3 linked regions of the Homo sapiens genome follow. The protein of the gene in region 1 purifies or fractionates together with the protein of each later gene. This does not show direct contact. Each region holds a gene or a part of one and is shown in the gene's direction. Other genes may lie near its edges.

Region 1 (3,727 bases):
CAGGGAAGAATAGCCACGTTCATCCCAGCACCCCAGAACTAAGAAATAAGTTCTTTTTTTTTTTTCAGACAGAGTCTCGCTGTGTCACCCAGGCTGGAGTGCAGTGGTGCAATCTTGTATCACTGCATCCTCCACGTCCTGGGTGCAAATGATTATCCTGCCTCAACCTCCTGAGTAGCTGGGATTACAGTCGTGCACCACCATGCCCGGCTAATTTTTGTATTTTTGGTAGAGATGGAGTTTCACCACGTTGACCAGGCTTGTCTCGAATTCCTAACCTCAGGTGATCCGCCCACCTCCATTTTGGTAGACAGAGCCTCCTAAAGTGCTAGGATTACAGGCGTGAGCCACCACGCCAGGCCAGAAACAAGTTCTTTAGTTACATGCATCATTGGGAGATTGTGTGTGTTCCCAGTCTTTCCTTTTCTTTTAGGGATTTAAAGATAATTATACTTTGTCAGTTAGGCATGTCTTCAGGAAAACATAGAGAAGGTCATGTTGATTATATATCTTGGAATTGTCCAGATCCTCAGAGATTATGATATTGGTTTCCTGTCAGTTGTGCCAACAATGATAAGTAACGACCTGACGTGAAATCAAGAGAGAGGAAAGCTCTGGTCAGGCACAGTGACTCAAACCTGTAACCCCAGCATTTTGGGAGGTCGCGGTAGGCAGATTGCTTGAGTTTAGGAGTTCGAGATCAGCCTGGGCAACATGGCAAAATCCCATCTCTGCAGAAAATTAGCCAGGTGTGGTGGCGCACACCTGTAGTCCAGGCTACATAGGAGGCTGAGGCAGGAGGATCACCTGAGCCTGGGGAGGTCGAGGCTACAGTGAGCCATGATCTCACCACTGCATTCCAGCCTGGGCAACAGAGTGAGACCTAGCTCCAAAAAAAAAAAAAAGAAGAAGAGAGAGAGAGAGGAAAGCTCGAAGCTGACAGAACTCCAAAAGCTAACTAGCCTAAAGCCAAGCTGCCTAGAAACAACCATATATACCCATTAGTACACTTGGAAGAAGGCATCACATTATGGGACAGGGGATGAAAGCTCGGGGGTCAGGCAGGTAACAGAACTGAAATGGACAGGTGGGAGAGGAGTGTAGCAAGCTGACGCTGGCACGGCTGCTGAGTTCCTCTGCTCGAGCTGATCTTGTCATGCGTGATGCGATTCCAGTATTGCCAGATCTCTGGGTTTTTGTTTTTGTTTTTTTTCAAGAGAAGCCAGGAATCTAGATTTTTATGTCATATCAGATTTTTTTTTGTAAATGCTGGCACCTCATTTAACTTAGAAAAGGGAGAAAAAACACCAGGTGAAGGAAAGCCTCCCTACAGGCCAGGTGTTGCCCTGGTAGGGCGGTGGCTACTGGTGGTGAGACTGTTCCAGGACACGGAAGATGGATGATGATGTTAATAATGATGCGTCACCGTGGTGAGGCTCACCTGCTTCCTTATAACCACTGCAAGAGGCAGAAGTGTGTCGCACATTAACACCCTCTTATCCCAGTAGATCAGCAGTAGCTCTTAACCGCCTCTGGGAGTTGGCCCCTTCTGAGAGCCTAATAAACCCTATAGACTGCCTTCTAGAAACATGGACGTACCATACACAAACGCAAGCGTGGCACAGAATTCAGACTTCCCGAGGCATCTCTCCAGATACCAGTTGTAGACCCAACTTTTTATTCAGAAACCTTAGCTCTTCAGAGTGACTCAGTGCCTATGGGAACTCCTGAGGTTTTGCTGTCCTCTTCAGTTCTAAGGTGTTCAGTCTATGGTTTTAAACTTGTTTGTTTGCTGTTTTGTAGATTTTTCCAAACCCAGTCATTCTTCCCATTCGTTTTTGAACTAAGTAATTATTGCTTCTCGCCCTTTTGGCTAAGATCAACTAAACTTGGTAAATAACAGTTATGATTTCCTAAACACAAGTGTATCCATATGAATGGAGCACCAGGGGTAGGAATAGAATGATTCTCCTCCCCGCAATCCTGCCCCTACCCCCTTGTCTTTGGAGCCTTCAAGATGGAGAAAACAGTGAAGAGAAGAGTAGCTGAGAGCTGCTTCTAACGCCTGCAGCCTGCTGCTGACAGCTAGCCATATGTGCAGAGAACAACTGTAAACATCCTTAGGAGGTGGAGGCCTTCTCAAAGAGGCCTTTAATTATTAATTAGTTAATAATTAATAACCAGCATTATTGCTGGTGCAGGAGGGTGTGAACCCAGGAGGCGGAGCTTGCAGTGAGTGGAGATCGCGCCCCTGCACTCCAGCCTGGGCGACAGAGTGAGACTCCATCTCAAAAAAAAAAAAAAAAAGTATACTATAGAGGCCGGACATGGTGGCTCACGCCTGTAATCCCAGCACTTTGGGAGGCTGACGCAGGCAGATTGCCCGAGGTCAGGAGTTCAAGACCAACCTGACCAACATGGTGAAACCCCCATCTCGACTAAAAATACAAAATTAGCAGATGTGGTGGTGCCTGCCTGTAATCCCAGCTACTTAGGAGGCTGAGGCAGGAGAATCGCTTGAACCCCAGGAGGTGGAGATTGCAGTGAGCTCAGGTTGTGCTATTGCACTCCAGCCTGGGCAAAAAGAGCAAAACTCTATCACTAAAATAAAATAAAAATCAAGTGAATTGTTACCATTTATGGTAGACTTACCATGTGCCAGGCTCTGTACTAGGCACTTGACTCGAATTCTCTTCTTTAATGCTGCAAAACTCCCACTATGGTTAAGTGCTGTCATTGTCCCTCATCTATATGGTGAGCAAGCTGAGCCTCACCGCTGGTAAATGGCAGAGGTGGGGTGAGAACCCAGGCAGCCCAGCCATGGGACCTGTGTTCCTAACCACTGTGCCTCCAGAGCATGAAGCGTGAGCCCTTCCCTGCATGGCCAGTGTGGGCGGCGGAGAGCAATTTTCAGTCTTTTCCTTCACAATAGCAAGATTGAGAAACTCACCAGAAATAGTATGAATAATCATTTCTATAGCGCGTATTTACACCATACAAATTTTGAGCCACTTTCCTTCACTGTCTCTAATCCTCACAAGAAATCTTGATGGTTTGTGTACTGTGACCACCATTTCACAGTTGAGGAAACTTGATCAGAGAGCTTGAGTAACTTCTGCAGAGTCACAGAGCTAGTGACTTGGGGGAGTTAAGAGTCCAACTCCAAGATCTGTGTCATACTACTTCTCAATTTAAAAAAATTTTTAAAAATGTCTCCTAAAACCCAGATGAAAACAAGAAGAGAATGGTCCTTTGTCATTTGCTTACCTTTTGTCATTTGCTTATTAGTAATATTAGCATTTCTGTGGCACCAAGCTGGCTGGATCCAGAGGGCATGAGATGCATTTTTTGGGTTGATTTGGAGGGAAAGGGTATATTGAGCCATGGCAGATTTGGCCTGGCACAGCTAGAAAATGAGGCTTCACTCACTTCTTGGAATTGCTCGCATTAGAGCCTCTGAAGTCAAATGTTTATAAAATAATGATTGCCTAATGAGAAGGCAGATTTGTGTGCACAACAAGTGTTATTTACAGGAAGCATATCTGTTGTTACCAACCCCAGACATTTTACTAGGCCAAGAAGCTGGTTTATTTAAAGTCATAGACCTGGAAAGGTCTTTGGGAATTTAATTGAGGCCAGGCATAGTAGCTCACACCTGTAATCCCAGCACTTTGATAGGCCAAGACTGGCAGATCACTCGAGTTCAGGAGTTCGAGACCAGCCTGGC
Region 2 (3,500 bases), on another chromosome or scaffold:
TATCACCTAACATACCATATAATTTACTTATTTATTAAGTTGTTTGTCTCGTGACACCAGAGTTTAACCTTCACAAAGGCAGTGATTTGTTTGCTTTGCTCGCTAATCTATCCCAACCATCAGAATGTGCCAGGCCATAGGTAAGCCCTTAATAAGCATTGTTAAAAGAAGGGAGGGCAACCGAGAACACAAAACCAGTAAGCTTACTTACTAGGCTTCTATCTCATTGCAGATTTGAGAAAGCAAATGAAAGAAGGGATGGGACACTACTTGAATCAGTATCTCTAAACCTGTGTTCCTTGGAGCTGAGTCTATGACAGTAATTGGCCTTGATAAAAATAGCCCTAGAAAATACTGCATATATTATCTATTTACACATTAAATATTCATATTACACATATTACACATAATCATGTTACACATTAACATACTAATTGCTATAAGAGCTCCTATAGTAACCTCTTCTTGAACTCACTTGATCATAAAACTCTCTTTTGGTAACTCACCTACCATTATGGGACCCTTTTGGCCCATGGTAAACTGAGTTTGAGAAAAATCTTACTAGAGTACTATGTGTAGGGCCTGGGAGTGATTGGCAGTTCTTTTAAATTACTTTTGGTTGATGGACTGCACTGCTTCATGTGCTACTCAGAAGGAGGCTGGAGTACATCAGGATCAAGACTCCAGCTCTTAATTACTATTATTCTTTTAAAGGTATGATGCTTCTATTTTTCTGGGAGAAATAAGAAAAAAATAATAATTAATGTTATGGCCCTTTTAAAAAGTTAGCTTCTGTTTTAGGTATTTGGGAATAAGATGATCATTCCTTCCCTGGATGGAGCCCTCTTCCAGTGGGACCAAGACCGTGAAAGCATGGAAACAGTTCCTTTCACAGTTGAATCACTTCTTGAATCTTCTTATAAATTTGGAGATGATGTTGTTTTGGTTGGAGGAAAATCTCTGACTACATATGGACTCAGTGCATATAGTGGAAAGGTAAGTGAAAATGCTGAATTTACTTTGGGGAAATCAGAGTAAATTAGGGTAGAAAAAGTAATTTATTAAACTACACTTATTATTAGTTGAGTTTTATTGTAATTTTCCCCTGAGGTTGTCATTTGTTTTAATAAGAGAACTGTGAGGTAGGAAGGGGAAACTAATAACAGAATAAATGGCAGAGCCAGGAATAGCAGGAGGAAGAGAATTCATAAATATGGTCTACTGTGTCTCAGGTGTTTTTTTTTTTTTTTTTTTTTTTGAGACAGAGTCTCACTCTGTTGCCCAGGCTGATCTCAGCTCATGGCAATCCCCACCCCCACCCCATTCCACACCCCCTCAGGTTCAAGTGGGTTCAAGCGATTCTTGTGCCTCAGCCTCCTGAGTAGCTAGGATTACAGGCACATGCCACCATGCTTGGCTAATTTTTGTATTCTTAGTAGAGACAGGGTTTTACTGTATTGCCAGGCTGGTCTCCAGCTTCTGGCCTTAAGGGATCTGCCCACTTCAGCCTCCCAAAGTGCTGGGATTATAAGCAGGAGCCACCATGCCCAGCCTCAGGTTCTTTTTTTTATACATTATTTTGCAATCTTCACAGTCTTCCTAAGTGTAACTTTCGTTTTTTTTTTTTTTTTTTTACATTTTGACAGATGAAGAACCTTATAAAGATTAATAGTAATCCTAATGATAAGAATAATTGATACTACTCATTTATAGGGTTTGATCCTATAATAAGGTGATCCAAGAGGAAAGTTTATACTCATTTTACAGATGAAGAAACTGAGACTTTAAAAGGTTCAGAAACTTCCAGGGTCACATTTAACTTAGATCTATCTGACAACAAAGTCATGCTGTTAATAATCTAGACTTTCTCCAACATTAGCTCTTAGGATATAATCATAATATAATCTGCTTCTAAGATTGGGTCTTATAAATCCATTATCAAGAGTAGCTAATTAAAAGCATCCTTTCAACCAGGCAAGGTGGCTCACACTTGTAATCCTACCACTTTGGGAGGCCAAGGTGGGTGGATCACTTGAGGCCAGGAGTTCGAGACCAGCCTGGCCAACATGGTGAAACCCCATCTCTGCTAAAAATAAAAAAATTAGCTGGGGATGGTGGCGCACGCACGCCTGTAGTCCCAGCTAGTCAGGAGGCTGAGGTACGAGAATCACTTGAACCTGGGAGGTGGAGGTTGCAGTGAGCTGAGATCACACCATTGTGACGTGTAAACGGTTTATATACAGACTTGGACTAAAATAAGGAAGAATAGAAACGTGGTCTTTTTACTCTTGCATTTTTCAACTTTAACAATTCCTTATCTAAGTGTTAGGCCCATAGCACTTTCTTGCTCTTGCAGATGCTTTTCTGCCTTCTCCACCCACCTGCATCTGCATTGTGTTGAGGAGGCCATGCCATCCTATCTGGCCGTTTTTTGAGCAAAGCACTTCAATCTCTGTTTACTTCGGTAGTCTCATCTGTAAACAACAGGATTGAACCCGATCACCTGGTTTTCCGATTTGATGTGCTGCTACATAATTCTGGTATTGTAGAAGGTATGCTTTTCGTGAGGATTTTAGTTTGGATCATATTAACTCTTCCTTTTTTCTTTAGTGAAAATTTGAGGCAGTTACTTTTGAATACAAAAAGCTCTCAGAAAAGTTTCAAATTTTTAAAAACCAAACACTTTTGTTATACAGAAACTCTAAGGTTGATTTTTTTTTTAACTCACCTGAAATTTTATTAATGATATTGTAGAAAAGCTATCACAAGTAGCTATCCATTTCTTCTTGTATATTCTATGGAAATCTCCAAAGTAAGGCTAAAATTATGTAAATCCTTAAAATCATTCCCTGAAATAAATATTCATTGGTACTGTCATTGTTCTAAATAACTCATTTTAGGAGTTGGTAATCTAACTGATGCTTCTTATGACTTGAGTACTTCATACACATTTCCTTAGTTTCCTTTCACTTTTTAAAAATTACAGATTCCTTTAATATCTCTGATCTATTATGAGTTGTCTCCTTTTACTAATTTTGTATCTAATTTTGTCTTTTCAGGTGAGGTATATCTGTTCAGCTCTGGGTTGTCGCCAATGGGATAGTGACGAAATGGAACAAGAGGAAGACATCCTGCTTCTACAGCGTACCCAAAAAACTGTTAGAGCTGTCGGACCTCGCAGTGGCAATGAGAAGTGTGTATTCAGATAATGTTGCTGTTGGTATTATTTAGAAATACACCTAATACCAAAATTTATCAGATTTCTGTTTGTGGAGATTTTGACTATTTTGTTGCCTTAAAAGCATATATATATATATTTTTTTGATACGGAGTCTTGCTCTGTCGCCCAGGCTTGAGTACAGTGGCGTGATATTGGCTCACTGCAACCTCCACCTCCTGGGTTCAAGCGAATCTCCTGCCTCTGCCTCCCGAGTACCGGGGATTACAGGCACGTGCCACCACACCCAACTAATTTTTGTATTTTTAGTAGAGACGGGGTT
Region 3 (3,727 bases), on another chromosome or scaffold:
GTGTTCATTAGGGATATTGGTCTAAAATTCTCTTTTTGTGTTGTGTCTCTGCCAGGCTTAGGTATCAGGATGATGCTGGCCTCATAAAATGAGTTAGGGAGGATTCCCTCATTTTCTATTGATAGGAATAGTTTCAGAAGGAATGGTGTCAGCTCCTCCTTGTACCTCTGGTAGAATTCGGCTGTGAATCCATCTGGTCCTGGACTTTTTTTGGTTGGTAAGCTATTAATTATTGCCTCAATTTCAGAGCCTGTTATTGGTCTATTCAGAGATTCAACTTCTTCCTGGTTTAGTCTTGGGAGGGTGTATGTGTCAAGGAATTTATCCATTTCTTCTAGATTTTCTAGTTTATTTGTGTAGAGGTGTTTGTAGTATTCTCTGATGGTAGTTTGTATTTCTGTGGGATCGGTGGTGATATCCCCTTTTATCATTTTTTATTGCGTCTATTTGATTCTTCTCTCTTTTCTTCTTTATTAGTCTTGCTAGCAGTCTATCAATTTTGTTGATCTTTTCAAAAAACCAGCTCCTGGATTCATTGATTTCTTGAAGGGTTTTTTGTGTCTCTATCTCGTTCAGTTCTGCTCTGAGTTATTTCTTGCCTTCTGCTAGCTTTTGAATGTGTTTGCTCTTGTTCCTCTAGTTCTTTTAATTGTGATGTTAGGGTGTCAATTTTATATCTTTCCTGCTTCCTTTTGTGGGCATTTAGTGCTATAAATTTCCCTCTACACACTGCTTTAAATGTGTCCCAGAGATTCTGGTATGTTGTGTCTTTGTTCTCATTGGTTTCAAAGAACATGTTTATTTCTGCATTCATTTCGTTATGTACCCAGTAGTCATTCAGGAGCAGGTTGTTCAGTCTCCATGTAGCTGAGCAGTTTTGAGTGAGTTTCTTAATCTTGAGTTCTAATTTGATTTCACTGTGGTCTGAGAGACAGTTTGTTATAATTTCTGTTCTTTTACATTTGCTGAGGAGTGCTTTACTTCCAACTATGTGGTCAATTTTGGAATAAGTGCGATGTGGTGCTGAGAAGAATGTATATTCTGTTGATTTGGGGTGGAGAGTTCTGTAGATGTCTGTTAGGTCCGCTTGGTGCAGAGCTGAGTTCAATTCCTGGATATCCTTGTTAACTTTCTGTCTCATTGATCTGTCTAATGTTGACAGTGGGGTGTTAAAGTCTCCCTTTATTATTGTATGGGAGTCTAAGTCTCTTTGTAGGTCTCTAAGGACTTGCTTTATGAATCTGGGTCCTCCTGTATTGGGTGCATAAATATTTAGGATAGTTAGCTCTTCTTGTTGAATTGATCCCTTTACCATTATGTAATGGCCTTCTTTGTCTCTTTTGATCCTTGCTAGTTTAAAGTCTGTTTTATCAGAGACTAGGATTGCAACCCCTGCCTTTTTTTGTTTTCCATTTGCTTGGTAGATCTTCCTGCATCCCTTTATTTTGAGCCTATGTGTGTCTCTGCACATGAGATGGATTTCCTGAATACAGCACACTGATGGGTCTTTACTCTTTATCTAATTTGCCAGTCTGTGTCTTTTAATTGGAGCATTTAGCCCATTTACATTTAAGGTTGATACTGTTATGTGTGAATTTGATCCTGTCATTATGATGCTAGCTGGTTATTTTGCTCGTTAGTTGATGCAGTTTCTTCCTAGCCTTGATGGTCTTTACAATTTGGCATGTTTTTCCAGTGGCTGGTATGTGTTGTTCCTTTCCATGTTTAGTGCTTCCTTCAGGAGCTCTTGTAAGGCAGGCCTGGTGGTGACAAAATCTCTCAGCATTTGCTTGTCTGTAAAGGATTTTATTTTTCCTTCACCTATGAAGCTTAGTTTGGCTGGATATGAAATTCTGGGTTGAAAATTCTTTTCTTTAAGAATTTTGGATATTGGCCCCCACTCTCTTCTGGCTTGTAGAGTTTCTGCCGAGAGATCAGCTGTTAGTCTGATGGGCTTCCCTTTGTGGGTAACCCGACCTTTCTCTCTGGCTGCCCTTAACATTTTTTCCTTCATTTCAACTTTGGTGATCTGACAATTATGTGTCTCGGAGTTGCTCTTCTCGAGGAGTATCTTTGTGGCGTTCTCTGTATTTCCTGAATTTGAATGTTGGCCTGCCTTGCTAGGTTGGGGAAGTTCTCCTGGCTAATATCCTGCAGAGTGTTTTCCAACTTGGTTCCATTCTCCCCATCACTTTCAGGTACACCAATCAGACGTAGATTTGGTCTTTTCACATAGTCCCATATTTCTTGGAGGCTTTTTTCGTTTCTTTTTATTCTTTTTTCTCTAAACTTCTCTTCTCGCTTCATTTCATTCATTTGGTCTTCAATCACGGATACCCTTTCTTCCAGTTGTTCGAATCGGCTACTGAAGTTTGTGCATTCGTCACTTAGTTCTCGTGCCATGGTTTTCAGCTCCATCAGGTCATTTAAGGACTTGTCTACATTGGTTATTCTAGTTAGCCATTCATCTAATCTTTTTTTCAAGGTTTTTAGCTTCTTTGTGCTGGGTTCAAACTTCCTCCTTTAGCTCAGAGAAGTTTGATCATCTGAAGCCTTCTTTTCTCAACTCGTCAAAGTCATTCTCTGTCTACCTTTGTTCTGTTGCTGGTGAGGAGCTGCGTTCCTTTGGAGGAGGAGAGGCGCTCTGATTTTTAGAATTTTCAGTTTTTCTGCTGTTTTTTTCCCTATCTTTGTGGTTTTATCTACCTTTGGTCTTTGATGATGGTGACATACAGATGGGGTTTTTGTGTGGATGTCCTTTCTGTTTGTTAGTTTTCCTTCTAACAGTCAGGACCCTCAGCTGCAGGTCTGTTGGAGTTTGTCGGAGGGCCACTCCAGACCCTGTTTGCCTGGGTATCAGCAGCGGAGGCTGCAGAACAGTGAATATTGCTGAACACCAAATGTTGCTCTCTGATCGTTCCTCTGGAGGTTTTGTCTCAGAGGGGTACCCGCCGTGTGAGGTGTCAGTCTGCCTCTACTGGGGGGTACCTCCCAGTTAGGCTGCTTGGGGGTCAGGGACCCACTTGAGGAGGCAGTCTGTCTGTTCTCAGATCTCAAACTCTGTCCTGGGAGAACCACTACTCTCTTCAAAGCTGTCAGACAGGGACATTTAAGTTTGCAGAGGTTTCTGCTGCCTTTTGTTCAGCTATGCCCTGCCCCCAGAGGTGGAGTCTACAGAGGCAGGCAGGCCTCCTTGAGCTGTGGTGGGCTCCACCCAGTTCGAGCTTCCCGGCAGCTTTGTTTACCTACTCAAGCCTCAGCAATGGCGGGCGCCTCTCCTCCAGCCTCGCTGCCACCTTGCAGTTCAATCTCAGACTGCTGTGCTAGCAATGAGTGAGGCTCCGTGGGTGTGGGACCCTCTGAGCCAGGCGCGGGATATAATCTCCTGGTGTGCTGTTTGCTAAGACCGTTGGAAAAGCGCAGTATTAGGGTGGGAGTGATCCGATTTTCCAGGTGCCATCTGTCACAGCTTCCCTTGGCTAGGAAAGGGAATTCCCTGACCCCTTGTGCTTCCCGGGTGAGGCGATGTCTCGCCCTGCTTCGGCTCACGCTCGGTGGGCTGCACCCACTGTCCAACAAGCCCCAGTGAGATGAAGCCGGTATCTCAGTTGGAAATGCAGAAATCATCCGTCTTGTGCGTTGCTCACGCTGGGGGCTGTAGACTGGAGCTGTTCCTATTTGGCCATCTTGGAACAGGAATCAAAGGAAATTTTTTAAAAATCCCATT

The links.
Region 2: the proteins of BFAR (region 1) and EIF2AK3 purify together in Homo sapiens (affinity purification with mass spectrometry, with the first as the bait; one large-scale study listed by BioGRID). This does not show direct contact.
Region 3: the proteins of BFAR (region 1) and VAMP7 purify together in Homo sapiens (affinity purification with mass spectrometry, with the first as the bait; one large-scale study listed by BioGRID). This does not show direct contact.

The regions. Positions count from the first base shown.
Region 1 is NC_000016.10:14,639,261-14,642,987, forward strand, and holds part of BFAR (bifunctional apoptosis regulator), read left to right. Parts: intron 1-3,727. UniProt on the Homo sapiens protein: Membrane-bound E3 ubiquitin ligase that plays a role in several processes including apoptosis regulation or reticulum endoplasmic stress. Has anti-apoptotic activity, both for apoptosis triggered via death-receptors and via mitochondrial factors.
Region 2 is NC_000002.12:88,592,965-88,596,464, reverse strand, and holds part of EIF2AK3 (eukaryotic translation initiation factor 2-alpha kinase 3 isoform 1 precursor), read left to right. Parts: intron 1-801; coding exon 802-996; intron 997-2,406; exon of another isoform or gene 2,407-2,552; intron 2,553-3,059; coding exon 3,060-3,193; intron 3,194-3,500. UniProt on the Homo sapiens protein: Metabolic-stress sensing protein kinase that phosphorylates the alpha subunit of eukaryotic translation initiation factor 2 (EIF2S1/eIF-2-alpha) in response to various stress, such as unfolded protein response (UPR).
Region 3 is NC_000023.11:155,933,133-155,936,859, forward strand, and holds part of VAMP7 (vesicle-associated membrane protein 7), read left to right. Parts: intron 1-3,727. UniProt on the Homo sapiens protein: Involved in the targeting and/or fusion of transport vesicles to their target membrane during transport of proteins from the early endosome to the lysosome. Required for heterotypic fusion of late endosomes with lysosomes and homotypic lysosomal fusion.